Linked DNA regions of Homo sapiens: region 2 is linked to region 1. The links come from fine-mapping of genetic effects on gene expression. A gene starts in region 1. The other region holds a variant in brackets. All regions are shown on one strand. Distances are between the middles of the regions.

What was found.
Region 2: its variant is fine-mapped to the expression of SLC6A4 in whole blood (TOPMed, PIP 0.99).

The regions. Positions count from the first base shown.
Region 1 is chr17:30,229,640-30,245,449 of GRCh38, reverse strand. SLC6A4 (solute carrier family 6 member 4) reads left to right here and starts at 9,753. Exons shown (of 15, transcript NM_001045.6): 1 at 9,753-9,837. LOC105371720 (a long non-coding RNA gene) reads right to left here and starts at 7,952. Exons shown (of 3, transcript XR_007065698.1): 1 at 7,679-7,952; 2 at 6,650-7,130. RefSeq lists an enhancer at 6,221-7,121, cis regulatory regions at 8,117-8,159, 7,943-8,184, 8,287-8,306, 8,175-8,345, 8,573-8,612 and 2 more, a silencer at 9,337-9,519 and promoters at 9,020-9,774, 7,929-9,774, 7,955-9,779, 9,675-9,969, 8,185-9,969 and 1 more.
Region 2 is chr17:30,210,669-30,223,979 of GRCh38, reverse strand. SLC6A4 (solute carrier family 6 member 4) reads left to right here. Exons shown (of 15, transcript NM_001045.6): 2 at 1,065-1,161; 3 at 1,899-2,364; 4 at 5,049-5,183; 5 at 5,643-5,862; 6 at 6,676-6,814; 7 at 7,764-7,898; 8 at 8,266-8,369; 9 at 11,113-11,240; 10 at 12,556-12,668. The coding sequence starts at 2,022. Among named protein-coding and RNA genes, the nearest start is that of SLC6A4, 18 kb to the left of the region's middle. RefSeq lists enhancers at 1,022-1,537, 2,424-2,440, 2,430-2,446, 2,457-2,473, 10,859-11,318 and 6 more and cis regulatory regions at 2,491-2,523, 2,474-2,523. The variant C/T (reference allele first, on the strand shown) is at 9,111.

The DNA.
Region 1 (15,810 bases):
AAGATAATCTTCATTACCAAATACTTAATGAAAGCCATTTTTCAAATGAACTTAGGATCCAGAGGGGAGAAATGAAGCATGGTGGTTTTATCTTCTCTGCTAAAGATTAGGGAAATGGGCTGAAGTTGTAGCTGGAGGTCTCAGTTGGAAGAAACTGCTAGTATTTGGGTGACGAATGAGGTAGGAAATGGGAAGGCATGGAGTTGTCTTTTGCTTTAACTGTGAATCATACAGTGTCACCAGAGGAGAGCTTCATGACTGGCCTCTGGGAAGTCCTGGCCTGAGTAATGGTGACCCTACACGTCCAAGAAGCCAAGGCATGATAATGAGACATGCCTTCAGGATGTGGTGTGGCCCATCTGCTTGCTTTGGCTTGTCCTTAAAGAGCAGCTTAATTCTAAGTTGCTGTTGGTGGCACCAGGGCACTTGGACTTGAAGTCCTATTCCTCTAGTGTGGTGTGGGTGAGCACCATTGCCCACGGTGGCTCTAGTTAGTCATTTGTTAAGTTAGATACTTTTTAAAGTGATTCCAGATGAGCGTGGTCATATTTAGGACAACTTGTTGAGAACTGTTGTTGATACTCATGAAGCCAATGGCTTCCTTCTTGGGGTCTGTGACACAAATGGGTTGAAAACTAGGATTAAACTGGCCGGGTTTTTCTGTTTTTCTTTTTCAAACTCCAAGTCCTTTACACATTATTGCAGAGGGAAAGGAAATAGGGGAATGTTCAATTCACAACAGCTGCAGCTATTTGGTCTTTGTTTTGTCTTTTCTTTTGAGTCTCATTCTGTCACCCAAGCTGGAGTGCAGAGTACAGTGGCACGATCTCGGCTCACTGCAGCCTCCACTTCGTGGGTTCAAGCAATTCTCCCACCTTAGCCTCCAGAGTAGCTGGGATTACAGACATGCGCCACCACAGCTAATTTTTTTTTTTTTTTTGTATTTTTAGTATAGACAAGGTTTTGCCATGTTGGCCAGGCTGGTCTTGAACTCCTGGCCTCAATTGATCTGCCCGCCTAGGCCTCCCAAAGTGCTGGTATTACAAGTGTGAGCCACTGCGTCTGGCTAGCTGTAGCTATTTGGAAAGAGGATTGTGTGCAGATGGGAAACCCTCCACATCATCTTTCCTGGATATTGTTTGAATACTCAGTGCTTTCCCTCTTGCTGACTCCTCTGGAAAAACTCTAGTTTGGTAGCACGTCTTGAAGTGGACAGAATGAGTTCTGGAGCCATCTTTCAGGTTACCCCATGACAGCTGTTTGTTTTTTAAAAATCAGCTGCTGTGCAGAAGGCTAGGGCAGCCAAGGCAGGGTGGCTATTTGATGGAGAGTATGGGAGGGTGCTTGACTTAGCATAGCAGCATCCCTGCATCTCACCTGGCGGAGACCTTATGGGTTAACCTAGTCCAAAATTCTCCAAAACGAGTAAGTCTTTTAAGTTCTATTTGCACACATTGACAGGAACACACAGCCTCTCACTGTGGCCCCTGCCCACCTCTCCAGACTCGACTTACTCCCCTTCTTGTACACTCTGCTTCAGCCAGCCACTGACCGCCTCCCACCCTGTCCCGCACTTTGTCCCTCAGACACATCAAACTCATCTCCGCCTCCTTGCTGTTCCTCCTTGCTGTTCCGTCTACCTAAAGCTCTTCCCTCAGGTCTTTGCATGGCTGGCTTCTCATTCGGGTCACGCCTTCAGTGTCAAGGCCATCTCTGACCACCTTATCTAGGCAGCCAACTCCCTCCTCCTACTGCCTCTGCCACCTCCATGCTGTTACAGGGTCTGTTTTATTCACAGCACTTACCACTTTCTGGAGGTACTGATGTATTTATATGTGTATTGTCTGTTTTCCCCAAAGTCAGTTACTCCGTTGGCTCCCAGGGGCGGGAACTTTGTCCTGCTTGTGACTGTATACTCAAGTGCCTGGCTCATAGGAAATATAGGGTAGGCTGACACTGAGCACACCTTCTATTCTGACAGCTATAATTAACGAACAGTTTTTACATAGACCTGAAGTCAGCTTCACTATAACTTGCTCAGCAGGGACAAGTAGAACAAGAACAAAGCCCCTGGAGATGTTTGTATTTCAACATTTCACATTAAGGTCTTGATTTCATTTCATGCAGGTTCCTGGCAGTGGGGAGAATAGGTAGGGAGAGAACCACAGAGGCTTACCTGGCTTCCTCACTGCTTGAACCTTTTTTGTTTCAAATCAGCCCAACACAGCGGGAAGAGCAGGGCCTTTGGACTCAGATATGCTGGCCTTGCCACTTGGCAAGCATATAAGTGCCTACACCTGGCAAGTCTGTATAAATGTGGAGAAGCTACTTAATCTCTCTCAGCCTCTGTTTCCATGCTTCCTTTGTTGAAAAACAATATTAAAATTTATTCACTTCGTGAGGTCGAGGTGGGCAGATCACAAGGTCAAGAGATCGAGACCATCTGACCAACATGGTGAAACCCTGTCTCTACTAAAAATACAAAAATTAGCCAGGCGTGGTGGTGGGCACCTGTAGTCCCAGCTACTCAGGAGGCTGAGGCAGGAGAATTGCTTGAACCCAGGTGGCGGAGGTTGCAGTGAGCCGAGATCACGCCACTGCACTTCAGCCTGGATGACAAAGCGAGACTGCATCTCAAAAAAAAAAAAAATTATTAAATATGAGAACTCAGCCTGAAACCTGGCTGAGGAAAACTATATTTTTTGATAACATATATAGTTATCCAAAAATAATAATACCAGTTTATATTGCATATTTCCCATATGGTAGAAAAAGGACAGAAGATAATGCATATAATGTGCCTAGTAGAGGCTCAATAAATGGCAGCTTTTATTAAAAACAGTTCTCATGGAGATTCTTCAATGTGTCCAGTGTTGTGGGAGCCCCTCTGGGAGTTAAAACAATTCCCTTCTCTCCAACCAAATTTGTCATTTACTTGGGAAAATAACATGTTTATGCATGAACCAGTTGAAAAGGTGACTTTATATGAGAGAGATCTTGCAGTAAACTCCGTAATAATTGTGAAAGGGCTTGAAGTTGGAGAAGGTAACGTGCTGACTTGTTTTAAAGTAACTTCAACCCACAGTGAACGCGGTGATCAGCTTACCAAGAAGAAACTAAGGGAAGCCCTTCCTAGATGGAGAGGCACAATTTACCCTGAAGTTTGCTGAGAGGAAGAGCCAAAGAGAGGGTGAGTGTCTTATAAACTTGAGCAGGAGAAAGAAAAATGGAAATGGGGTACAGGAGAGAGGATTGGCTTCAGGAGCTGGGAGCAGAGGGCTTGAGTTCTAAGAGTAGGTCTAGCTCTTTGATCAGATCTTGAGCAAAGCCTTGGACTTCACCTCTTGGCTCCCAGCATCTTTGCTAATAAATAGGAAAAAAAAATGTCCTGCTTAAGTGAACAGCACTGGTGATGTGTAATGTGGCACGATTTGGTGGGTAGTGCGTCTGGTGTAACATGGAGCTGAACTCCTTCAAACTCCCTAGGGCTCCTCCCTCCTTTGTGAGAAACTTGAGGCCCCTTAGAACATCTTTTTTTTTCCCTTCCCCTCTTTTCTTTCTTTTCCCTCCCTTCCACCGTTACCCCTTTCTTTCTTTGCCTTTTATAATTAAAAAATGCTTTTCTGAAAAAGTTTCATAAAAATATCACCTGCACATGGCAAATATTTAAATAGTATAGCAGGGTAGACATTGACAAAGGGGGTTTCCCTCCATCCTAATGTCCTCTGCCTCCAAGGCACCTACTGTTCCCAGTCTCTTCTGTGTGCTTACAGATTTCAATACACATATCAGCCCCCATGCCTTGCCCTCAACAATTTGGAGTAACAACTGTTCTATGCATTTTTTTTCCTCCATTTACAATAAATCTTGAGAACTCCCCCAGATCAGCCCATAGAAAACTGCCTTACTCTTTCTACCTGCTGCATGGTACTCCATTGGTGGATATGCCACTGGGGCCCTGGTTTTATGGCACTAAGTCTGGTAAGACTCAGAGGCATTTTCCTAGCCCTTCATTGCTGGTGTGTACATTTATGGAGCCTGCTGTGCGCCCACACAGTGATAGGTGTTGAGGCATGGAGAGAGGCAGCACCCTGTCCCTTGGGAACCCAGAGCCTGGGAAATTCGGAGAGGGACCAAGGTGCTGCAACAGCTGTATGTGTACAGGGCGGTGGGGCCCTCCCTGGTTCTCTGTGCTTCTGGCGTCAACATCTCCACCAACGTGGAAGGGAAAAACAGCTGCCCTCTGGAGTGTGGCCCTGGCTGATGAAGTCAGGGAAGGGAATCCCCTAGGGAGGAAGTAGAAATCATAAACCCTTAAGGAAGGAGACCACCACTTCTCCTGCTGCCCTTCTCCTCCTCCCCTCCGACCCACCTAGTTTATAAGACAGAAGATAAGGAAAAAAGCAAAAAGTCAGAAAAAAAACAGAAGTAAGATAAATAGCCAGACGACCTTGGCGCCACCACCCGGCCCTGGTGGTTAAAAAATAATAATAGGCCGGGCGTGGTGGCTCACGCCTGTAATCCCAGCACTTTGGGAGGCCGAGGTGGGTGGATCACAAGGTCAGGAGATCGAGACCATCCTGGCTAACAAGGTGAAACCCATCTCTACTAAAAATACAAAAATTAGCCGGGCATGGTGGTGGGTGCCTGTAGTCCCAGCTACTCGGGAGGCTGAGGCAGGAGAATGGCATGAACCGAGGAGGAGCTTGCAGCAAGCCAAGATTGCGCCACTGCACTCCAGCCTGGGCAACAGAGCAAGACTCTGTCTCAAAATAAAATAAAATAAAATAATAATAATAATAATAATATCAACCCCTGACCTAAACTACTTGTGTTATCTGTAAATTCCAGGCATTGTATGAGGAAGCATTGCAAAAGTTTCTGTTCTGTTAGCTGATGCATGTAGCCCCCAGTCATGTTCCCCACGCTTGCTCGATCTATCACAACCCTTTCACGTGTACCCCTTAGAGTGGTAAGCCCTTAAAAGGGCCAGGAATTTCTTTTTCAGGGAGCTCAGTTCTTGAGACATGAGTCCGCTGATGCTCCCAGCCGAATAAAGCCACTTCCTTCTTCAACCTGGCATCTGAAGGGTTTTGTCTGAGGCTCGTCCTGCTACACCATGGCTCACAGAGATTGCAGATAGATCGTGGGGTAGTCACAGTATCTGTAAAGTCTGGGGTGTCACCTACACCCTGATTTCTCCTCACGTGTGAGTATCCTTCAAGCTGGGCCTTTCCACATCAGCCACTCCTGCCTTTTCCTCTCTTTTAGAAAAAATTATCTGTGAAGTCTGAATATACAATGAGTTAAGCAGGGTTAGCAACAGAAACTTAAATCGATGCTAATCTGACAAATACTTACTGATTTTAAACAATTATTACTGTGCCTCTCAATGGGGTTGTGGAAGCAGCAGGGGCCCATGGTGAAGACTGAGGGAATTAATTATGGGGCTTAGATAGAAAGTGCTATAAAAGTCTTAGTTATTGTTATTGGCATTAGCATTTGCCCAGCAAGTGCTTCTGGGGGTGTTTGGGGTGTTATCATAGAGTGAGTGGTGTGGTGAGGCTGCTGCCGTAATACCTGACTGAGAGATAATGGGAGTTCAAGTCAAGAGGATGGTGGGGCTGGGGAGAGGGAGGTGGGAGACCGGGTGATGGGGTGCTAGGAGGAGGGTTTAGCAAAGGCAGAAGGCTCTGGAGGAATGAGGGGAAGGAGCTGGGAAAAATGACCAATGACAAAATGAACCTACTTCCAAATGTTTCTGGCCTTTCTTAGGGCTGAACCTGATCTGTTCCTCCCCCAAACCCCCCGCACTCCCAAAAGGACCTTGTCTGGAGTTCCCTTTAGCTTGCTTCATCTGGATGGGGTGGGCCTGCTAGGGGCTCCCATGGAGACCTCCGTAGAGATGAGCCCAGGGTTCACAGTGGCAGCAAGTCCTGCCTTGGAGGTGCCACTGAACATGAATGTAGAGTCACCAGAACCATGCCAGGAAAAACTGGGGGTCCCAGGAAAAACCAGGGGTGTCGGGGAGGTGCTGGTGGGAATGGAGCAAGATGACACTCTAAGGACTGAATATTGTCAGCATTTTCCTGGGCCTGAGAAAAAGCCCACAAGGAGGGGTGGGCCTTCTTCTTTCGTTATTGTATAAACAGGGCAGAGACAGGACAGACAGATGGCACCAAGGGCTTCCGGAGGGAGAGCCTGGGATTCGCATGGTTCGGTCCTGGCTGGCTCCACAGGGGACTCACTGCTGGCCTTTGAGACTTCCAGGAAGTGGGTTTTCTTGGTGGTGTTTGGGGCAGGTGTAAATATTTATGTGCCCCTTTCCTCTTAAAGTGAAAGCTTGTATTTATTCTGAGCCCCAGAGCAGCTTCTAAGCCCCACTATTTCTGGGCTCAAGCAGGTGAACAAAGAAAAACTATTGCTGTGCGGTGATTGCCAGGCAGCCTCTTCCCAGCTGCCCAGGACCTGTCGCCCTTGACATCTCCCTGGCTGTCCCTATACACCACCAGCACCAAGCTTCGCAGGTGCCTGCTGGGTTTCTGGCTTGCATCTCTTCCCTGCGGCCACCAGCTGACGCCTGCATTCACATTCTAAGGAACCCGTCTGTCCCAACCACCACGACAACCCCCTTCCCCCCTACTCTTACCTGCAGCCCACGCAGGTCACAGCCATTAGATCCTTCCCCTGAAGCGCTGCTTCCCTCCTGCCGCACTCAGGGCTCCCTCCTGCCTTCCATGCCCAGGACAGGGCCTCCCGGCCTCTCCAGGTCTCTGGAGCAGAGAGGTTGTGCCTTCCTCATGCGGTCAGGCTCAGGCTGGGAAGGAGCGGCCCAGAGGCGGGGGGAGGCACGGGTGCGGGGCTGCCTCTTCCCCGGTAGTGGACGCTGAAGCCTGTCCACCTGAATTGGAGGCGGGGCGGGGCAGTCGACTGACCGCCAGGCAGGGGAGCAGGGCGCGGGCTCAGAGGGAGGGAGTGGGAGGCCGAGGAAGGACAAGGTGCTTGTGGCGATGAGTATCAGAAGGCAGAGCGGAGCTGCTCAAGAGAGGCTGGCTCTGTGGAGGTGAGGACCTGCAGGTGGGCCTGGCCTCTCTGTGGGATGGTACCCAGGGCAGGAGGAAGAGAAACACCTGTTTAGAGAGAGGGGGAGGGTCTGGGCCAGTTGTGTGCGGACTCTGCCATGGAGGCAGGGGGAACCAGGGCGGGGCCGTCTGTGTAATTCTAATGTCATTTGCTAATGGTGGTTGCCCGCAGCTGGGGAGCAAGAGGGGAGGAGATGGGACCACCCGGCCAGAGAGAGGAGGGGTCGAAGGCCCCCTTGGAGGAAGGGCCCAGCGCACAGGGCCTGCAAGGAGTTGGCCCCTTCCCCACCCACAGCTGGGCAGTGCCCACTGAGATCATCCTCCCTACTTCACAAACAGAGACACAAAGGCCAGACAGCTTGAGGTTAAGGAGCTCGGTCAAGCCCACACCACAGTACAGGGTGGGGGCCGGGATTTGACCCAGGTCCACAGGGTGCCCACTCTCTAGGCAGCACCTGCACAGAACAGGGCAGTGCCATAGGGAGGGGCTGCGCGCTGGGCAGGAATGCATCTTCGGCTAGAAAGAGTCTAGAAGGAAGATCAGAAGTGGCGAGACTGCACAATTAAGAAGTGCTAAGAAGTCACACTGGACAGACCTGGTCTTGGTAGCCAAGCGCTGAAGTCACCCCTGCAGCCGTCCTCCGCTTTGGCGCCTCTTCCCAGCGTCCCTGCCCCCCTCCTTTGGCCCTCCTGGAAAGGACACTTTGCGTTTTCTGTTGCCCTTGCCTATACAGCACAAACATGCTCATTTAAGAAGTGGAACGTGGGAGGCAGCAGACAACTGTGTTCATCTGAAAGGAGGAGGCCCCACTCCCGTGCAGGCGCTGCCCCTGGGGGTGAAATTCCCAAGCTTGTTGGGGATTCTCCCGCCTGGCGTTGCCGCTCTGAATGCCAGCACCTAACCCCTAATGTCCCTACTGCAGCCCTCCCAGCATCCCCCCTGCAACCTCCCAGCAACTCCCTGTACCCCTCCTAGGATCGCTCCTGCATCCCCCATTATCCCCCCCTTCACCCCTCGCGGCATCCCCCCTGCACCCCCAGCATCCCCCCTGCAGCCCCCCCAGCATCTCCCCTGCACCCCCAGCATCCCCCCTGCAGCCCTTCCAGCATCCCCCTGCACCTCTCCCAGGATCTCCCCTGCAACCCCCATTATCCCCCCTGCACCCCTCGCAGTATCCCCCCTGCACCCCCCAGCATCCCCCCATGCACCCCCGGCATCCCCCCTGCACCCCTCCAGCATTCTCCTTGCACCCTACCAGTATTCCCCCGCATCCCGGCCTCCAAGCCTCCCGCCCACCTTGCGGTCCCCGCCCTGGCGTCTAGGTGGCACCAGAATCCCGCGCGGACTCCACCCGCTGGGAGCTGCCCTCGCTTGCCCGTGGTTGTCCAGCTCAGTCCCTCTAGACGCTCAGCCCAACCGGCCGCACAGTTTTCAGGGGTCAGTTCCTCCAAGTACAAGGGGCGGTGGCTTCTCTGGAGCTGCAAACTTGTCACTGCTATTTCCTTTCGGTCTTCTACTTCCTATCGTTCCTGGCCTCCTCTTGGGGAGAGGTAGAGCCCTCTCCTTTCCGCCTCAGGGACAACCCAAAGCAAGTACTGCATGTGCCCTTTTTAAAGTTTTAAATAATTTTAGCAAAAAGGATATTAACATTAAATCAATTTTTAAACTTTTTGAAAAAATTATCAAAACTACATGCACATGGTTCAAAACAATAGGCTCCTGCTGGGCCCTTTCAGATAATTCAAATTGTCACCAGGTTGGAGTGCAGTGGTTCGATCACGGCTCACTGCAGCCTCGACCTCCCGGGCTCAGCTGATCCTCCACCTCAGCCTCCTGAGTAGCTGGGAACACAAGCGCGAGCAACCACGCCCGGCTAATTAAAAAAATTTTTTTTCTAGAGATGGGGTCTTGCTGTGTTGCCCAGGCTGGTCTTGAATTCCTGGGCTCAAGCAATCCTCCCGCCTCAGCCTCCCAAAGCACTGTGCTCCTTTTTGACGCAGCTTTGAACTGTAGCTGGTTAACAAAATGAGAACCAGTTCTTCATTCCTTCATTGTGGAAGTCTTTATTGTGAGACTCTGGGGACGGAGAGGAATTAGACAAGGGCCTCTAAGCTGAGCTCACATCCCAGCCGGTCAGTCAGATAAACGCATGGGTATCGAGTACTGCTAGGTCCCAGGAAGAAAGAGAGAGCAGCTTTCGGGATGGGGACGATGGGGAGGTGTCCGAGGTCAAGAGAAAGCGGCACGAGCAGACCCCTGTGTGCCGTCCTGTGGGCGCGGGGCGGCAGGGGAGGCGCACACCTGCTCCTTTGTGCAGCCTCCCCCCTCCCGCAAAGTTAAAGAGCAGGAAAGTCAGGATTCCTCGCTCGGCCCTGCCCTGCCGGCTGCTCCGCGCTCCGCTCCTCCCTGCGAGCGTGTGTGTGTGTCGGGGGTCCCTCCCCTCCTGGCTCTGGGGTCGGGCGCGCACCCCGCCCCGTAGCGCGGCCCCTCCCTGGCGAGCGCAACCCCATCCAGCGGGAGCGCGGAGCCGCGGCCGCGGGGAAGCATTAAGTTTATTCGCCTCAAAGTGACGCAAAAATTCTTCAAGAGCTCTTTGGCGGCGGCTATCTAGAGATCAGACCATGTGAGGGCCCGCGGGTACAAATACGGCCGCGCCGGCGCCCCTCCGCACAGCCAGCGCCGCCGGGTGCCTCGAGGGCGCGAGGCCAGCCCGCCTGCCCAGCCCGGGACCAGCCTCCCCGCGCAGCCTGGCAGGTGGGTCCGCTTTTCCTCTCCGCCTCGAACCCACGTTTCTTTCCAGACCTTCTTCCCCGCCTCGGGGAGGGGGATAGAACCGCTGCGCCCCACCGCCCTGCGAGGAGGCGAGGAGGTGCATGCGCCCCAGCGGTGGGCGCCGGATCCTGCCCCTGCGCCCTCCACGCTCAGCAAGAGCCAGAGCTGAAGCTGACCGGCCAGAGTGGGAGACGAGGAACGTGGAGTGCTCGAAGTGGGCGGGCGTAGGGGGCTCCTTTGTCTATTGTTGCAGGGGCTTTGCAACCTCTTGAGGACCCGTGAAAGACCCCTTAAAGAGGGTCTTGAGCAAAGTGCTGTCCTGCGCTTTGGGAAGAGTTGCTTGCTTTCGTTTCAACCCATGGTTTATGTTTGATCTTTACTTTGCTGTCATCGCGTGCAGGTGGCTTTATGCAAAGGGAGAGTTCTGGTTGACACAAATGCCCAGACAGCTAGAGAAATCTCTGAGTGGCGCCTAAGTGGGCCGAGTCTCCGTGCGCTTGGGTGGTTTCACTGTCAGAGCTGAGGCGCTCTCAGACACCTCACAGGCCATTCAGAATGTATGTGAAACTCCAACTCCAACGACTGTGCTACGTGGTTGAAGGATATAACCATCATTTGCTTGAAAATTGTGTACATTCAAACTTGTTCTTGAAAAAAAGCTCTCTGGAGCTCAAGAGTGGATTTGGGTCTTGGGCTAAGGAGCAGATTTTCTTCTGAACTGGGGCTTTTGCATATTGAATTGTTCCTTTTCCATTTGGGACTCTGAAGAATTTGAGAGGGGTAGAATTTCTGAATCAGACATTACAAAGACTTTGTGTATGTATTTTTACCATCAGTTTTGTCCAGAAAAGTGAACCTGGTCAATGGATTATTTATGAGCCTGCTAGCTAACTCTCATCATAGGAAGACGAGAGCAAATATTTAATGTGTTTTGCCTTCAGTTACATAGGAAAAATGTCTAAGAAGGTGACATTGGGACTTGTGTTTAATGAAACAGAGAACTGTGGGCAGCGTCAGTGTTGGGTTTTTAGGAGCGTAGGGAGCACACAGCTTTGACTCTTTGTCCCATTACTTGCTTCTGTGTGAAGCCACTGAGGCCCCAGGGTTCGGGTTTTCCTGCCACGCACTCTGGGGTGGCAGTGACCGTTCCAATATGGATGAGTGAGAAGCAGGTTCTTATGAGGTTTGTGCAAATTGAGCAAGCCACTTGGGGCATGGGTTTTTCCTCTTTTCTTTCTTTCTTTCTTTTTCCCACTAAAGAACAGATTGAAAGTGCTTCACAATTAATCAAAAGTCCCCTCAACACTCTGGTGATCCATCTAAGACCTCTCAGAGATATAACCACCAGCACAGATATTCAAACCCATTTTTTTCAATCTCCTTGTTTAAGAAATATATATATACTAGGAGTGGGATGGGGGAATAATGTTGATGTTTTAATGGAATCTGAAAGACCTCAGAAATTCCTCTCGGGGGATGTTTAGAGTCGTCTGAGCATTTTGATGAAACTTGGAGAGGCATGTTGAAGAGTTTCGCAAATAGGTGAGGTGCCTGAGGAATGGGGATGCTTGGCTGGAGGGGGGTTAGGAGCATGGATCAGTCTGTTTCTTACAGCAGGTGCTTGCTTCCCAAACACCCTGGATGTCCGCTGCCAAACAGAAACACAGGTAACTCCAGACATTAAGCCAATACGTGGCAGCTCCTTCTCCTTCCTAGTTGTGGAATGAATGGTATAATTGGAGAGAATATAGAAGGCAGGGCTTCCTGAAGAAGCTTAATTTTAATTTGGCTTCATGAATCAACAGGATATGGTCATGACTTGACTTTTTCTAAAGATGTCTGGACAGCCAGAGCAAAAATTATACAGTCACTTTTGGTTGTTGTTGAGAAGGTAACTCAGACCTTAGTTATTCCCAGTAACATATCAGCTCCTCGTGGTCCTCAGCTCTAAATGAGGGGCTGTGGAGAGGACTGCCTAACACGATGTCCGAGTCCCCTCCAACTCACTCTGCAACCATGACCCTAACCTCTCCACTTTAAGAAAACATGAGTTGAAATGATGGTGCAAAAATGCCGGAGGGCCGGTACTCTCTACCCAGATATCACCTTCAAATCAGGGTCTCCTGGGGATCCCCTCAGGTTTCACTCTAAGGCAGAGGCTTTGCACACTCTGACACATGTAAGTAAGTTAACCCCTGCACCTTAACCACAGCCAACCAACAGGGGCCCAATAACCCGACTCCCCAGCTGCCCAAATGCCCTTTGCAAGATGCCCAGGGTGTGGTGCGGTAGAAATAGCCCCCAGGCAGCACAAATTTGGGCTGCACCGATTTTCCTGTCCAGTCCCTGGGCTATTAACAGCCACCTCCACTCCCTGATGTTTGCGGTGTTCCATGGAACATACGTGGGTGTGGAGCGAAACATCTCATAAAAGCGCCTGTTTCTCCACACTTGGGACAAGTGAGGCAGACTCCCTTGCTCTTACAGGGAATCTGTTTCTGGGCTTAACCAGGCAAAATGACATTCCAAGGGAAGAAAACTCCCATCTTTCTAGGAGGGACCCAGGGGAAAACAGATGAAACTAGCCTTTCACAGAAACCTGGCATCAATGATCTTCCCTGAGCAGAAAGGCAAATTGCTCTTCCAGGTGGGCACGGGCTCCACCATTGGCCTGCACAGCCCCGTACTTCCAGGTGGAGCTCACGGTGCTGACTTTGGTTCACATTCAGAAATGTTGCCCTGTGAGAAACGTCTCTGCAGGGGCTGCTCCCTTCAGCCTGACTTTTGTTTGCTCTGGGTGACTGGGAAGACGAATGCTCATTTACTGAATGTCAACAACGCGCTTTTAAATGGGAGCAAGTGTTTTCCCAGCCCTGTGTCTAATGAGGTGACAAAATGAGTAGCGATAAAGTGGATGTGAGGCAGTCTGACTGCCTTATTATTATTTCCATCTTTCCTTTGGCCCCTCTGGAACCTGGCAGCAGCTCCCCAGCTTCCATCCCAACCCTGAACCAAGGGGATTTGTTAATGGGATTTAAGCCACAGGCTCTTTAGCACCCAGGACTGGATGGACCTCCATTAATCCCAGAAGCCCCTGGGCTGCAAAAGGAGAGACGCAACCCAGTGATGTGGAGACAGAGAGGCAATGTCCCAGGTCTTCAGGTACTGACGAGTGACAGACAGCAAGGGGAGGGTCTCCTGGGATGCTGATGTCCAGTTCTTCAGGTCATTCTTTGAGGTAGGGAGGGAAGAGGTGACAGGAGGGGTTATGATGAGACCAGGTGGTGATCTGGGCGAGCACTTCTCAGCAAAGCTGGGGACACAGCGAACCCATTGTGTGCTTTGGGAGAGCCCAGAGCCCCAGACTGGGTGGGCAGCTAGCAGGAGGGGGCAAGTACGTGGGCCTTTGCCGTCTTGGGTTTTGGTGTGACCTTTCTGTGTGTATACAGGAAAAAAGAGCATTTCATTTCCTTTGTTACTGAACTGTTGAATAAAATAAGCTGATTTGTCTTCTCTAAGGGAACTTTTTCCTCTAAGGGGCCAAGAATTAGTGAGTGGGAGACCTGGAAGGACCAGGGAGGGGTTCTGCTCCCCGTAGCTCTGTGCATGGCTGGCTCTAGCTCACCCACGGCTCTTGAGGACAAAGCCAGGCCTAGAACTTGAGTCTCTTCTACTTTCGCTCTCTTCTCTTCCCTCCGTAATGATGGGCATGTCTTCTTTAAAAGGCGAACCAAATTAGCTGGCCCTTTCTCTTGTTTCAGAGTTGGGGAGCTGGGCCGAAGGAACAGGGAGGGAAGAGCCTGGAGGGGAGAGGGGAGGTAAGCTGTTCTGGTCAGCAGGGAGCTTTGGCTGACTGGAAGTTTCCCAGCACTGGCTGAGGGCTAGAATTATTTTTTCTTTTGAAAATTTTCAACTGAAAAATCAGAGATATGGTCCATTTTCACCAGTTAACATTTTGCCAATTTGTGTACAAAGTCACTCTAATTATGCATATATCTAATTTTTGCATATGCAGTATATATATGATTTGATATATTATGTGTAATATATAAGATCATTAATATAATTATGCCATTTATGTATCTGTATGTATACATACAGATATATATACACACTATATATACACATATGTACATACAGATACATACAGATATATATATACATATGTACATACAGATACATACAGTGTATATATGTGTCTGTATACACTATATGTATATATAAACTATATGTATCTGTATGTATACCTACAGATATATATAGTGTGTATATATATATCTGTAGGTATACATACAGGTATATATATACTATATATATAGGTTCAACTAATATATATAGTTGAACCTTTGAGAGTTTGCAGACTTCCAGATACTTCTTCCTTAAATACTTCAACACAGATTTCCAACAAACAAGGACCTTCTTGTACGTAACCACAGCGCCATTTTCATGCTGGGGAAACTGGAGATAGATACAATACTATTATCGCACATACAGCTCATATTCCCATTTCCCCCGCTGTCTCAATGATGTCCTTTTTAGCATACAGTGTTACTCTGTGAGACTGTAAACTAGGGGTCAGAAAGTTTTTCTTGCTCTCATCTCAGTGCATATCTGAGAACTAGACTGGTGCAATGATGTGTAAGGATGAACTGATTTTTCATGAGTGTCTCCAACTGTGTGACTCACACTAAAGCACATCTCAGAAATTGTTGACCTAAGAGTATAGGCACCTTTGAGCAGCAACAGCCAAACTCCAAACACCTTGTGGCTGAAGAGGTGGTTGCACGTGTCCTCCGCGCCCCCTCTCCACCTGGATGCACCCGTCTCCTCCAGCAGCCTCACCTCACCTGACCTCACCTCTCCTTCTCCCCTCCATGCCCCACCCAGAGAAATGGGCCAGTTTCCCCTCTCTTTTCTCTTCTCCACTCCCATTTTATTTTGTAGTTCCACTTCAAACCCCCTTTTCCCCACTTCCCTCTTCCGCCTTGCTCAGCAGCCACAGGTGAATCCACCCTTATTTCATAGCACCCTCTCCCTGGGGTTGTTTTTTCCTCTCTTCTCTCTGTTTTGGGTCCCTTTGTGGACCCAATCATGTCTGTTTTACACAAAGGTAATCTTAGTAACATACCTGTATAAAGGAAAAGAAAAGCTGTGTGTGGACATGTTCCCATGTGTTCTATCTCGATTTTTACTTATTGCATAAATTGTATTTATCACAACAGTAAAGGAGTGTTTGGAAGGTGAAGTGACACTCCTAATCCTGATTAATCTAACACATCATCTGTTTTGAGTTTCTCAAGTCTCTTTCCCAGCCTCGTCCACATTTAAATATACTATGGTAACAGAGTAAAAGCAGTTTTGTTTTCTGCAAAAAGTTGTAAGTTGTGAAATTATGTGTCACAAGCAATTCATGTCACCAACTTCTTCTTCTTCCTCTTCCTCTTCCTCCTCCTCCTCCTCCTCCTCCTCCTCTTCCTCTTCCTCTTCCTCTTCCTCCTCTTCTTCTTCTTCTTCTTCTTCTTCTTCTTCTTCTTCTTCTTCTTCTTCTTTCTTCTTTTTCTTCTTCTTCTTTTTTGAGATGGAGTTTCGCTCCTGTTGTCCAGGCTGGAGTGCAATGGCCCGATCTCAGCTCACCACAACCTCTGCCTCCTGGGTTCAAGCTATTCTCCTGCCTCAGCCTCTAAAAGGCTGGTATTACAGGCATGCGCCACCATGCCTGGCTAATTTTTGTATTTTTAGTAGAGACAGGGTTTCTCCATGTTGATCAGGCTGGTCTCGAACTCTGACCTCAGGTGATCCGCCCACCTTGGCCTCCCAAAGTGCTGGGATTACAGGCATGTGACACTGCGCCCAGCCCATGTCATCAACTTCTAAAGAACTTGGACCAGGCGCAGTGGCTCATGCTGTAATCTCAGCACTTTGGGAGGCTGAGGCAGGAGGATCGCTGGAGTCCAG
Region 2 (13,311 bases), 20 kb after region 1:
CTCATCATGTAATAAAATAATAATATCCCTTGGCCTGGTAAATGGTTACCTATGGTGGGTGAGAGGATGTGTGGTTATTTTAAAAGCCTATCAAGCCTAGTTGAGGGCCGAAGGAAGGGGGAAGTGGGGGGAGGCCAAGGCCAGGCAGTAGCATAAATGGTGAGCAGGGTGAGGTTATGGAGACCGCTCTTGTCAGAATTCATATCCTTCTGAGTGGTGTTTGCATTCTTGAGCCTGGGGTGGGTGGCGGAGGGCCCAACAAGTGCGGTACAGCCCAAGACGTCTACCTCCCCTTACACACACACAGCCCCTAGCTACATGAAGCTGATTTATCTCTTGTTGCTGTAGATATTTTTGGCAACAATCGATCCCTTTAAAATTTTTATTTTCCACTTTACAGAAAAAATGCAGCAAACGCCAAACCCTAGTGACTGACATTGCCTGGTGTTCATGTCTAATCCTTGCTCATGTTTATAGCCATAGTCATTCTTGTGAAGCTACTATTTTGTGTCCTGATTTTTCACTTACTATGTTTTTGTCTTCACATGTGTAGGTAGCTAAGTTGCAGTCACCAAAAACCCCAAATAGGTAGGAGACATCCATGCGCCATTTCTATTAGCCAGTTCCTAGCCATCCTCCTAACTGTTGGATCTGGAGGGTTAGCCTCAGATCATTGCAGTTATAAACAGTCCATCCCTGGCTATCTTTTCTAGAAGGGTCCAGTGTCATCTCAGCTAGGCAGAAACGTATTTCAACTCCCAAACTGTTTCAAGAGTTTGAAAAGCTCAGGCCCAGAAGAAACAGAGTGAGCAGTTGAACAGTCTTACAACTGCTGCTTACAACTTTATAACAGGCCATAGGTTTAAAGTCCAAAAGGGCTCAAATTTCTACCCCACGTTTGACGACTCAGACCTCAAGCCAGAGCTGAGCTGACTTCCCTGCGCCCAGGCCACGGCGGTGAAATGAAGGCACAGCAGCCCCGGCCAGGCCCTCCCAGTGGAGGCACAGGGGGACGGCGACACCAACCACCCCAGCATCAGTAACCTGCACACTCTTCTCCCTAGGTCTCCTGGAGGCAAGGCGACCTTGCTTGCCCTCTCTTGCAGAATAACAAGGGGCTTAGCCACAGGAGTTGCTGGCAAGTGGAAAGAAGAACAAATGGTGAGCAGCAGTGCCGTTTAAGGACCAGTCGGGCTTGCAAATGCATAATGGGAACGCAGAAAGGCCATGTGCAGATAGACTGGACACAGCCGGAGGCAGCTCAAATCTGCCCCAACCTTCCTAGGGGCTAAAAGACGAGTGACAGAATCTGTAGCTGATGAGCTGGGGTGCCTCACGAAGGGTGGCCTTTTTACCTCTGTCCTTTGCTTTTTTCCTTTTAAAATCATAGCTGTAGTTGATATAAAATATAACTTTGGGTGTGCAGCTTAAATGATGGTGAGGACTGTCCTGCCTGCTGAAAGGCAGAAACGCCTTTGCTTGTCATTGTTTCCCCAACATAGCATCCAAGACAAAGGGGGTGCTCTGTGACGCTTTGGAGCCTCTCTCACATTCTTCTGAGCTGCTGGCAAACCACAAGATGAGAGTCCAGTGGCTCAAAGGGAAGCGAGTGCTTTGCTCTCCAGTCCAGCCTGTGCAAACCTTGGTGATTTGCTGTCTATTTGTGTTGGTTTTATTGTTTCCTTTTGAAATTACTTGATTGTCATTTGATGCCCTGTATAGGTTGAGAAATTTAGTTGAATTTATGGACTGCCATGTAGCAAATAGGATGTCTCACATTTAACAGATGCATTTGTAATCCCGTTAACTAATGTAGTTTAAGATGTATGATGAGTTAATACCAAAGATGAGTAAAATGTCTAACTTTTTTCTCCTTCCTCTGTGTGTCTTTCCAACAGAGTCAATCCCGACGTGTCAATCCCGACGATAGAGAGCTCGGAGGTGATCCACAAATCCAAGCACCCAGAGATCAATTGGGATCCTTGGCAGATGGACATCAGTGTCATTTACTAACCAGCAGGATGGAGACGACGCCCTTGAATTCTCAGAAGCAGCTATCAGCGTGTGAAGATGGAGAAGATTGTCAGGAAAACGGAGTTCTACAGAAGGTTGTTCCCACCCCAGGGGACAAAGTGGAGTCCGGGCAAATATCCAATGGGTACTCAGCAGTTCCAAGTCCTGGTGCGGGAGATGACACACGGCACTCTATCCCAGCGACCACCACCACCCTAGTGGCTGAGCTTCATCAAGGGGAACGGGAGACCTGGGGCAAGAAGGTGGATTTCCTTCTCTCAGTGATTGGCTATGCTGTGGACCTGGGCAATGTCTGGCGCTTCCCCTACATATGTTACCAGAATGGAGGGGGTCAGTATCACAGGCTGCGAGTAGAGGCTGTGACCCAGGGTGGGCTGTGACCCGGAGTGGGCTGTGACCCGGGGTGGGCTGTGACCCGGGTGGGCTGCGACCTGGGGTGGGCTGTGACCTGGGATGGGCTGTGACCCGGGTGGGCTGTGACCTGGGGTGGGCTGTGACCCGGGTGGGCTGTGACCTGGGGTGGGCTGTGACCCGGGTGGGCTGTGACCTGGGATGGGCTGTAGGTCCTCTTGAGAGGCCAGAAGACAGATTATGTCTTTTCAGTCTTCACTGGCGTAAGACTAGGAACATGATGACTTAGACTTTCGAGCTGGTAGAAAAGTCAAATCTCGCCAGGCGTGGTGGCTCACACCTGTAATCCCAGCACTTTGGGAGGCTGAGGCAGGTGGATCACCTGAGGTCAGGAGTTCAAGACCAGCCTGACCAACATGGCAAAACCCCGTCTCCACTAAAAATATAAAAATTAGCTGGGTATGGTGGTGGGCGCCTGTAGTCCCAGCTACTTGGGAGGCTGAGGCAGGAGAATCACTTGAACCTGGGAGGTGGAGGTTGCAGTGAGCCGAGATGGCACCACTGCACTCCAGCCTAGGCGACAGAGCGAGACTCTGTCTCAAAAAAAAAAAAAAAAAAAAAAAGTCAAATCTCCAGCAAGCCAAAAGCTGAAGACAGCGTGTCTGAGGCTCTCCGGGTTGTGAAGCTGGGTGAAGCCCTCCCAAACCTGACCTCACAGATCTCCAGCATCATTAGCGCTCCATTTATTGAAGGGCCTCCTTCTCATCCTGCATTCTCCAGGCTCTGTCCTCCCCCAGCCAGAAGTGAGGGAATGGCCGTCAGCCCTGTGCTGAGTCCCTTCACTCCTGCTGGCAAGTTCTGCTGGGAAGAGTCCACGAGGGTAGGCCTGCGTAAGGGAAAATTTGGAGGTGGCTTCAGAGTCCCAGATGCTTCTGATCCTTTGGACCTGTGTGAGGTCAGAGAAGGGCATCAGCGTTAAGTCCTAAATCTTAATTACCAGTCTGGGCAGAATTTAAGCTGGATTAGATCCACAGCATGACATTAATACCAACCTCAAACCACGCATGGCTGGCCCTCCTATCTCCTCCTGGGATGTTAGATTTTTGAGGCCAGAGGCCCTATCTTGTTCCTTGTACCCCTAAAGCCTCTCAAGTAGTTAACTTGTAGATTATAAAAAATAGTAGCTGACTGTAGGCATGAAGATGGGAACCTGGGGGAGAGCAGAGCAGTGGGGAAAAGTGAATGGGTTTGGGGCCTCTGGACTTGTTATCAGCACAAGAAAATAACAAGAAGTGGGTGTCAGATGCGTCAAGCTTGATTTTCATGGGAACTCTGACAACAGATTTGGGAGGGCAGCTACAAAGAGGTTTGGGGATCATCCATTTGTGTCACCCTCACTTCTCCCGTGACCTAACACAGAGTGGCCTGGATTTACTCTCTTTTAAAGATTTCTGTCCATGTAGTTGCAAAGGTAGTTCCAGGGGGCCCCTGGGAAGCTCAGCGCTTCCTGCCTAGGAGGAGCAAAAGTCATAATCACCTTATCTCCTGCTCCAGAGGACTCACCTTTAGCCTGGGCATTATGTAAGGGGCTGGGTCACTGGTGACATTTCCCCGACACTCATTCCCCAGCGTAAAGCTGATCAAGCAAACTCTTTGGAGGAAGGCCATCACGAGAACACATGGTTTTATTCTCGAGCCGGGTTTACCCAGTGTGACTGTAAATTACATGGACCTTTCTGATTTGCACAGACCTCAGGTTTCTGGGTTCAGAGCATTTTACAGCAGGGAAAATTAGGGAAAATCACAGCTGATCCACCCTTTAGGCTAAAAACTCAGGCTGCAGGTTAGCATTCCCCAACTTGGTATTTTTAAATTCAGCCTCAGCCACAAGATCCAGGAGACACCAGCATCTCCAGTTAGGTAGCAGCTCTGTGCTTGCTTGTTCTGTGAAAAACTACCCTGTCCAGCCACTCCTGCAAACGGCGCTTGTCAGGGAGCATTCTGGCTCAATGGAATTATGGAAGTGTAGCCAAATATCAATAATCATGTGTCTGGAGCCATAGATAATACTGATGAACAAAGATACTGATTTGGTGACTCACAGAGAGTTGCAGCTGTTGCTACAGATTGTCACAGGTGATCTGTTCCAAGGGTCCCAGGTACTGGCTGCATCGGAATCACCTAGGGAGCTTGAACACAATTTTTGTGTTGTGCCCATGCTTGGAGATTCCGCTTCAGGAGGTCTGGGGTAGACCCAGGAATCTAGGTGACTATGATGTGTGGCTACATTTGGGAAACTCAGCTCTCCTCAACTGTGTTCTTTTATAGGGAGGAAATTGGGGCTCAGAGAGGGGAAGTGGCCCAGCGTTCTCCAGGTAGTCATAAGTGGATGTGATCCTGCCTGTTCTGTCGACTCCCAAACCAGGCTTTCTTCCCAATTGCTCTCTTGGCCTCCTCTGAAACCTCATTTTAGTCATGGTGCTCCCCCTACGACTGCTTCTAGCAAAGCACTGAGACCAGAGGAGCACAGCATGAGGCCACTCAGCCCAGGGTGGCTCCTGACACTCACATCATCCGGCGACTGTGATTCTCAGTCACAGATTGGTTGGGCTATCCTGGGACAGACGTGGGCAGGGAGTGAAATTGTCTTTCATCTGCCTCAGGGGCATTCCTCCTCCCCTACACCATCATGGCCATTTTTGGGGGAATCCCGCTCTTTTACATGGAGCTCGCACTGGGACAGTACCACCGAAATGGATGCATTTCAATATGGAGGAAAATCTGCCCGATTTTCAAAGGTAACTGAAGGGCTCGGTGGGGTGGGTAAGTGGAGCCTCTCAGGAAGGGATTTCCATCAGTGGGTGGGAGCTGGGGACCTTCTTCTGGAATCAGTCAGGCCTTAGGCATCCCTGGGAGACTGCTTGAGTAATTAAGGTTTTGACTGCGTAAGTGGTGTGAAATTGTCAAAGAGAAACAGAATAAACGGCAATGAGAAGTAAACTAATGTAAACATTTTAAAGCATTAACAGGACATGTACACATTTTCTAAAACATGTTACCTTGCAAATACATATGAGTGACTAACGGCAGGGCCACTTTTCCCACGGTGGCCTGGAGTCCTTGGAATGGAATGGAGGGCAGCACCCACGTGTACCCCTCTGCTGGGCTGCGGGGCTCTCCAGTGCCCCGTTTCAGCCTTTTGCCGTTGGGCCACCCTTAAACTCGGCCTCTGTCTCTCCATCTCACCCACTGCCCAGGGATTGGTTATGCCATCTGCATCATTGCCTTTTACATTGCTTCCTACTACAACACCATCATGGCCTGGGCGCTATACTACCTCATCTCCTCCTTCACGGACCAGCTGCCCTGGACCAGCTGCAAGAACTCCTGGAACACTGGCAACTGCACCAATTACTTCTCCGAGGACAACATCACCTGGACCCTCCATTCCACGTCCCCTGCTGAAGAATTTTACACGTAAGTGCACGTAAGTGAGGGGTTGGCCTGTTAGGGGCAGGCCACACCCCTGGGGTTTGGCTTCTTAAAAAGAAGGCCAGGGCCAAGGGCTCCTCACCCCTTTCTGAGAGATGAAGCTATCAGGGGTGGGAGTAGCAGAATTTGGAGCTGGGAAACTCTACCTCAAGTGCTCCACGGCCTGGCCCTGCTGTGCCTCCTTGCACTTTCTCATGCGCCAAGTCAGTTTGCTCCAATGCGCCCAAGCCCGTCCCTCCCTTCACATTCCAAAATTACTCCCCTTCTTCCGGGGTCCTCCTCTCAGCCAAATGTCATGGAGGCGAAGCATCCTAGTACTTTGATAGTTCAAAACTATTCAAATGGTTTAATGTGTCAACTTCGTAAGTGGGATCTACCCTTTGGAAGAAGATGCTTGAGGAAGGTAGTTTTCTTTAATGCTGGAATTTCAGGCAATGGCAGCCCAAAGAGAGAGCTACTTTGGGGTAGGGAAGGGAGCCAACTCCCCACACTTACACATCCCTCATGTTCCCAAAAGCCAGTCACATTGGTCAAAGGAGTTCAGGTCCCATCCAGCAAAGGAGAATCCAGGAAGTCTGCCTTTAGGTTGAACACTCTTCCCAGGGTGTTGGCCAAATGTGCTTTGTGGTCCTTCAGGACAGGCAGGGCCAATCCCAGCTCTTCCTGGGCCTCAGTGACCACTTGGTCCTAGCAGCACCGTGTCCATTTGTCCCGGGCACCCTCAAAGGAGCAGCACAGATGTGTGCCCAGGTCACTCTACAGAGCCTCTCAGGGGCCTTTCTTTCTCCTTCACCCCAGGCGCCACGTCCTGCAGATCCACCGGTCTAAGGGGCTCCAGGACCTGGGGGGCATCAGCTGGCAGCTGGCCCTCTGCATCATGCTGATCTTCACTGTTATCTACTTCAGCATCTGGAAAGGCGTCAAGACCTCTGGCAAGGTGAGGAAGGCTCTGGCTGCTGACCCAGGCCTGCCCAGGGGCCCACAGGCTCTCAAACTCAAAACCCAGTAGCCTGGACAGACAGCACTGTTTCCTTCCACACCAAACACATTCCATGATGCACCCTCTCTCTCTTCACCGCATTTGTTAGAAAATTCTAGAAGTGGGTTGGGCATGGTGGCTCACGTCTCTAATCCCAGCACTTTGGGAGGCTGAGGTGGGTGGATCATTTGAGGCCAGGAGTTCAAGACCAGCCTGGCCAACACATCGAAACCTCATCTCTACTTAAACAAACAAACAAACAAACAAACAAACAAACAAAAAAAAACAATAGCCAGGTGTGGTGGCAGGTGCCTGTAATCCCAGCTACTCGGGAGGCTGAGGCAAGAGAATCACTTGAACCTGGGAGGTGGAGATTTCTGTGAGCCAAGATCATGCCATTACACTCCTGGGCAGCAGAGTGAAATTCTGTCTCACTAAAAAAAAAAAGGAAAAGAAAAAAGAATATTTTCTAGAAATGGGCCAATGCCAAGAACCATTACATGATTTTTTTTTTTCAAGATTCCTTCAACCCACTGGTAGTACCACAATTAATAATCGTGGCAATGACTTACTGGAAACCCATCATGGACCATGTTCAGTGCTTTTTATACACTGGCCAGTGCTATTGTTTCCTGCTAGATACTCCCTCAACCTTACAGATGCATAGTGGGCTCAGAGGTAGTTCTCCTGGCCAACCTGAATCCGATCCCTGTGTGACTCCAAGGGTTGTGATCTTTCTGCCACACCACCTCGCCCTCCTTTCTCAAGGTCTTCAAGAATAAAAGACACTGACATCCATTCACCCACCTCCCTCCCCTCCCCTCCCCTCCCCCGCTCCCTTCTCCTTCTCCCCTCCCCTCCCCTCCCCTCCCTGGAACAGCATGGTGATAACCCTTCTTCCTTACAGGTGGTGTGGGTGACAGCCACCTTCCCTTATATCATCCTTTCTGTCCTGCTGGTGAGGGGTGCCACCCTCCCTGGAGCCTGGAGGGGTGTTCTCTTCTACTTGAAACCCAATTGGCAGAAACTCCTGGAGACAGGGGTAAGATGATGAGGGAAATATGTGTACCTGTCTGTCATTTTACTAAACGAAGCTGGTCCTCCTCCAAATAGGACAGTAGGGACAACTGAAATGTGGCTTCAGTGTGCAAGTCTGCAATGATACTTTAACCAAGAAATACAAGCATTAAAGTACAGTTGAGGCCACTGGATGGGTTTATGCCTGAATCATAGGAAGAGAAATCACATTTGTTGGCACTTGGTTTATGGCTATGCCTGGAATGAGCCTTAAAAGCTGTTTTTCTGCCTCTGCACTTAGCCACATGGAGGCAGGAGTGGCGACCCTGTTGGTGCCAGGGTAAGCCTGTGTCTCCCCCTCACCCCATGCCCTTACCCCTGCTGTGTTCCAGGTGTGGATAGATGCAGCCGCTCAGATCTTCTTCTCTCTTGGTCCGGGCTTTGGGGTCCTGCTGGCTTTTGCTAGCTACAACAAGTTCAACAACAACTGCTACCAGTGAGTATCTGGGGTCCCCAAGCAAAGCTTGAAAGTGGCGTGAGTGAAAGTCAGCTAGTGTGGAGGAAGGTGATTGGACCGACGGCCTCGAATCTGGCCAGGCTTAGGCCTTGATACCACTGCCCCTCAGGGGTGCTGCAGGCCCCTGACCAGCTCACCCATGGCCAGAGCACTCATCCAGGCCGTGGCTTCACCTGGGCCACTCAGGCTGAGAGGGGCCCCATGCCCTTCGGTTTTGTCAGCGCTCCTGTATATAAAAATAATAAGAGGCTGGACATGGTGGCTCACGCCTGTAATCCCAGCACTTTGGGAGGCCAAGGCAGGTGGATCACCTGAGGTCAGGAGTTCCAGGCTAACCTGGCCAACATGGCGAAACCCTGTCTGTACTAAAAATACAAAGATTAGCCAGGCATGGTGTTGCACACCTGTAAGCACAGCCACTTGGGAGGCTGAGGCACGAGAAGTTGCAGTGAGCTGAGATCTTGCCACTACACTCCAGCCTGAGTGACAGAGCAAGATTCCAGAAAGAAAGAAAGAGAGAGAGAGAAAGAGAGAGAGAGAAATAAAGAAAGAAAGAAAGAAAGAAAAAAGAAAGAAAGAAAGAAAGAAAGGAAGGAAGGAAAGAAAAAGAAAGAAAGAAGAAAGAAGGAAGGAAAGAAAGAAAGAAAGAAAGAGAGAGACGGGGTGCGGTGGCTCCCACCTGTAATCTCAACACTTTGGGAGGCCGAGGCGGGTGGATCA[C/T]GAGGTCAGGAGATCGATACCATCCTGGCTAACACGGTGAAACCCCATCTCTACTAAAAATACAAACAAATTAGCCGGGCGTGGTGGCGGGCGCCTGTAGTCCCAGCTACTCAGGAGGCTGAGACAGGAGAATGGCGTGAACCCAGGAGGTGGAGTTTGCGGTGAGCCGAGATTGTGCCACTGCACTCCAGCCTGGGCGACAGAGTGAGATTCCATCAAAAAAAAAAAAAAAAAAGAAAGAAAGAAAGAGAAATTGCAAAGCAAGTTTACAAAAAGCTGCAACATACAATTAAGTAGTTAGGTTTAACTAGTCAATGTGTTTAACAATAAAAATTGTAATGTGATTATTTGTATTATGTATAAACAAAAAGTATGATGATCACATTATTTTGACTAACACAAAATACCATAATTTTTCTTTTCTTTTCTTTTTTTTTTTTTTTTTTTGAGACGGAGTTTCGCTCTTGTTGTCCAGGCTGGAGTGCAATGGCGCAATCTCAGCTCACCACAACCTCTGCCTCCCGGGTTCAAGCGATTCTCCTGCCTCAGCCTCCCGAGTAGCTGGGATGACAGGCATGCGCCACCACGACTGGCTAAATTTGTATTTTTAGTAGAGATGGGGTTTCTCCATGTTGGTCAGGCTGGTCTCCAACTCCCGACCTCAGGTGATCCACCTGCCTCAGCCTCCCAAAGTGCTGGGATTACAGGCGTGAGCCACTGTGCCCAGCCAAAATGCCATAATTTTTGCAACAAAATCCTATTTCAGAAATTTTAACAGAACAGGAAATGTTACACCAATTATGGTTTTAAATATCACCCACTGGGCCAGGTGCAGTTGCTCAAACCTGTAATCTTAGCCCTTTGGGAGGCTGAGGCAGGAGGATCACTTGAGCCTAAGAGTTTGAGTCCAGCCTGGGCAACATGGTGAGATCCCATCTCTACAAAAAATTTAAAAATTAGCTGAGTGTGGTGGTGCATGCCTATGGTCCCAGCTCTTCAGGAGGCTGAAGCAGGAGGATTGCTTGAGCCCGGGAGGTTAAGGCTGCAGTGAGCTGTGTTCATGCCACTGCACTTCAGCCTGTGCAACAGAGGGAGACCCTATCTCAAAAATAAATAAATAAATAAATAAATAAATGTCACCCATCATCTTTAGACTTAATTTTAATTGATCACAGATGGCAGCATCCATCAATCTCTTTGTGCTATGCATAAGATAATTGTAAAACTGATTTTTTTAAAGGTGGGAGGGAGATTCACATGTACCCTAAGCAATGTGGCCTTGCACTGGGACACCACCCTGCAGTTGTATGATGAGGCTGTCATTTAAAAGTGTGAGATCAGGAGTTTGAGACCAGCCTGGCCAACATGGGGAAACCCCATCTCTACTAAAAATACAAAAATTAGCCAGGCGTGGTCGTGGGCGCCTGTAATCCCAGCTACTTGGGAGGCGGAAGCAGGAGAATCACCTGAACCCGGGAGGCAGAGGGTACAGTGAGCTGAGATCAAGCCACTGCACTCCAGCCTGGGCAATAGAGCAAGGCTCTGTCTCAAAAAAAAAAAAAAAAAAGAAAAAAAAATGAGGGTATCTCTCTGGCTGGCAGTCTGTGACTTAGTTTGAAGATAAAGCCTAAATCTGAGGATCTCACAAATGTGAGGCTCAGGCCCTGTCCTGGCCCCCACTCCAACCTGGGCCCTGCTCCAGAACAAGGCTGGTTTGAAATGGAGAGGTCTGTGCTAGCAGGATTGCCTTTTAAAGCACCCCTGACTGCTCTTCTCCCTCCACCATGTGTGGTGGTCATGGCAGTCAGAGCTTCAGGCCTCGGCAGCTGGGTTCTGGGAGAAGGCGAAGGGACTCCGGGACAGGCTTGAGGTTCCTTGAGTTCAGCCTGCTTGTCCTTGCTGTGGCCGCCCTGTCTAAGGCAGGGCAGGCACACGGACAGATGCTCCTTAGACCCCTGATCTTGGAACTGTCTCAGGCGGCCCCTTGGGTTTTCCCCTCCAGAGATGCCCTGGTGACCAGCGTGGTGAACTGCATGACGAGCTTCGTTTCGGGATTTGTCATCTTCACAGTGCTCGGTTACATGGCTGAGATGAGGAATGAAGATGTGTCTGAGGTGGCCAAAGACGCAGGTAGGACCTCGGGTTCTATGCAGGTCCCTTGCTCCTACTGAGTTGCTTTGCTTTGAATCTTTGTAAAGATCTAACTTTTGATTTATTTCTAAATGTTCCTGAAATTTTCCAAAGAAGGCTGGGCATGGTGGAGTTCAAGACCAGCCTGGGCAACATAGTGAGACCCTGCCTCTATAAAAAAATAAATGAGCTGGGCATGGTAGTGCACACCTATAGTCCCAGCTACTCAGGAGGCTGAGGTGGGAAGATTGCTTGAGCCTGGGAGGTCAAGGCTACAGTGAGCCATGATCACACCACTGTACTTCAGCCTGGGTGACAGAATAAGACCCTGTTTCCAAAACATTTTTTATTCAAAGATTTGAGAGAAGCTCGATGCCTTAGAGATCTTTCCATGTGTTCAGGCCATGCAGGGACAGGGCAACTCCCTTGGCACCCAGTTCTGGGGCCTCCAAAATCTATGGGCTTGAAATGATGACTCTGATGATGGCTTTAAAACCAGTGGGTTTGCTTCCTGTGATGGTCTTGTGATGGCTCAAAGTCTAGTAAGCAAATATCATTTATCCTTAGAACTGCCCCTTGCAGAAAAAGAAAATCTAGCCAATATGACCACTCTATTTTACCGTGAAGTTTTTGTGGAAAAAGAAAAGAGCAACAGAGGGAGAAAAAACAGATGATGGCATCTAGTGGGCGAGGTCCCAGGGCCTTCTTGTTACAAGCATGTTAGCATGCTTGTATCTTTGGCCTGATTCGGTGCTTTGACCAACCCCATACCCCAAACGAGGGCACCCCTAGCTAACCCATGAGAGGCTGAAGACATGTCCCTCACACTTTCAAAAGGGACTTTAAAATAGAAAGAGGTCTTTATTCCAAAGCCTCTGTGACTCTACGGAAATCAATTTAACATTTCCTACTGTTCTGAAGCTGAAGACATCAGAGGGGGCTAACTGTCATGGACTTTAGAAATATCAATCCTGGTCCTGAGAAATCCCATGGAATTGTTATATGGTGGAAACTCTTATTCTCATGTGCAGCTTTGCCAGTCTCTGGGTCTTGGATCTGTTACCCACCCCCAGGGTTAATGGAGGGCACACAGTTTTCAAGATGGAAGCCCCACCCTTCCTGCCTCCCAGGAACTGGGGTGGCCACGTCAGACGGAGTAGAGTGTGAGGACGCACTTGGTGTGTGTCAAAACCTGATTCACACATAAGGTCTTGTGATGAGAATTGTAACTGTTGTTGTGGCTGAGTTTTCCTCTGTGACATCTTTGTAGGACAGGTCTTGTCAACCACCTCCTCCTCTCTCCCCTCTGTCTCAGGTCCCAGCCTCCTCTTCATCACGTATGCAGAAGCGATAGCCAACATGCCAGCGTCCACTTTCTTTGCCATCATCTTCTTTCTGATGTTAATCACGCTGGGCTTGGACAGCACGGTGAGGAAATGGGAAGGGGAAATGGGCTGTGGGAGGATGAAGAGGAAAGGAGGAGGACTCAGCTGGACTCAATTCCCTCCCATCCCTGGCCATCCCAGGCAGCTTTGGCTACTCCCTTCTGGTGCTCCAGACCCCCGGCTGACTCCTCGGCATTTACCACCCTCTGGTACATTCGAGTCATTAATGGGATAAAGTGGGTCAAGCGCCAGGCGCTTATGAGGCCCAAGGCTCACATATGTGAACTGTTATTAAGCACTGTCCCTTGGCCCAATTATGGCGCCTACAGGCCGGGGCGAGGTCTCTCCTGGGTCTCTGCTTTGCCAAGGGTTCAGTTCAGGGCCTGGAATTATTAGTGTGGAGTGAGTCTCAGCTTTGAGTTGGCCTTTCTGGTGCAAACGGAGTCTCCCCGAGAGACCTCATATATTGAAGTTCTGTCCACGTGTGCTATTTTGTTTCCTGGCTCTCCTTAGTGATGGGCTTTAAATGACAGTGTAAAACAGGGAAATACTCTTTGAGATGCTTACATGGTCCAGCGAGCCGGGGAACTGGTGATGATCAGCTTGACCAGTCACTTAGCAACCTTACCCCTCCCTCCTGTTCACTGTCCTGAAGGCCACAGCCTTGTCCCAAAGCCTCCACCGTG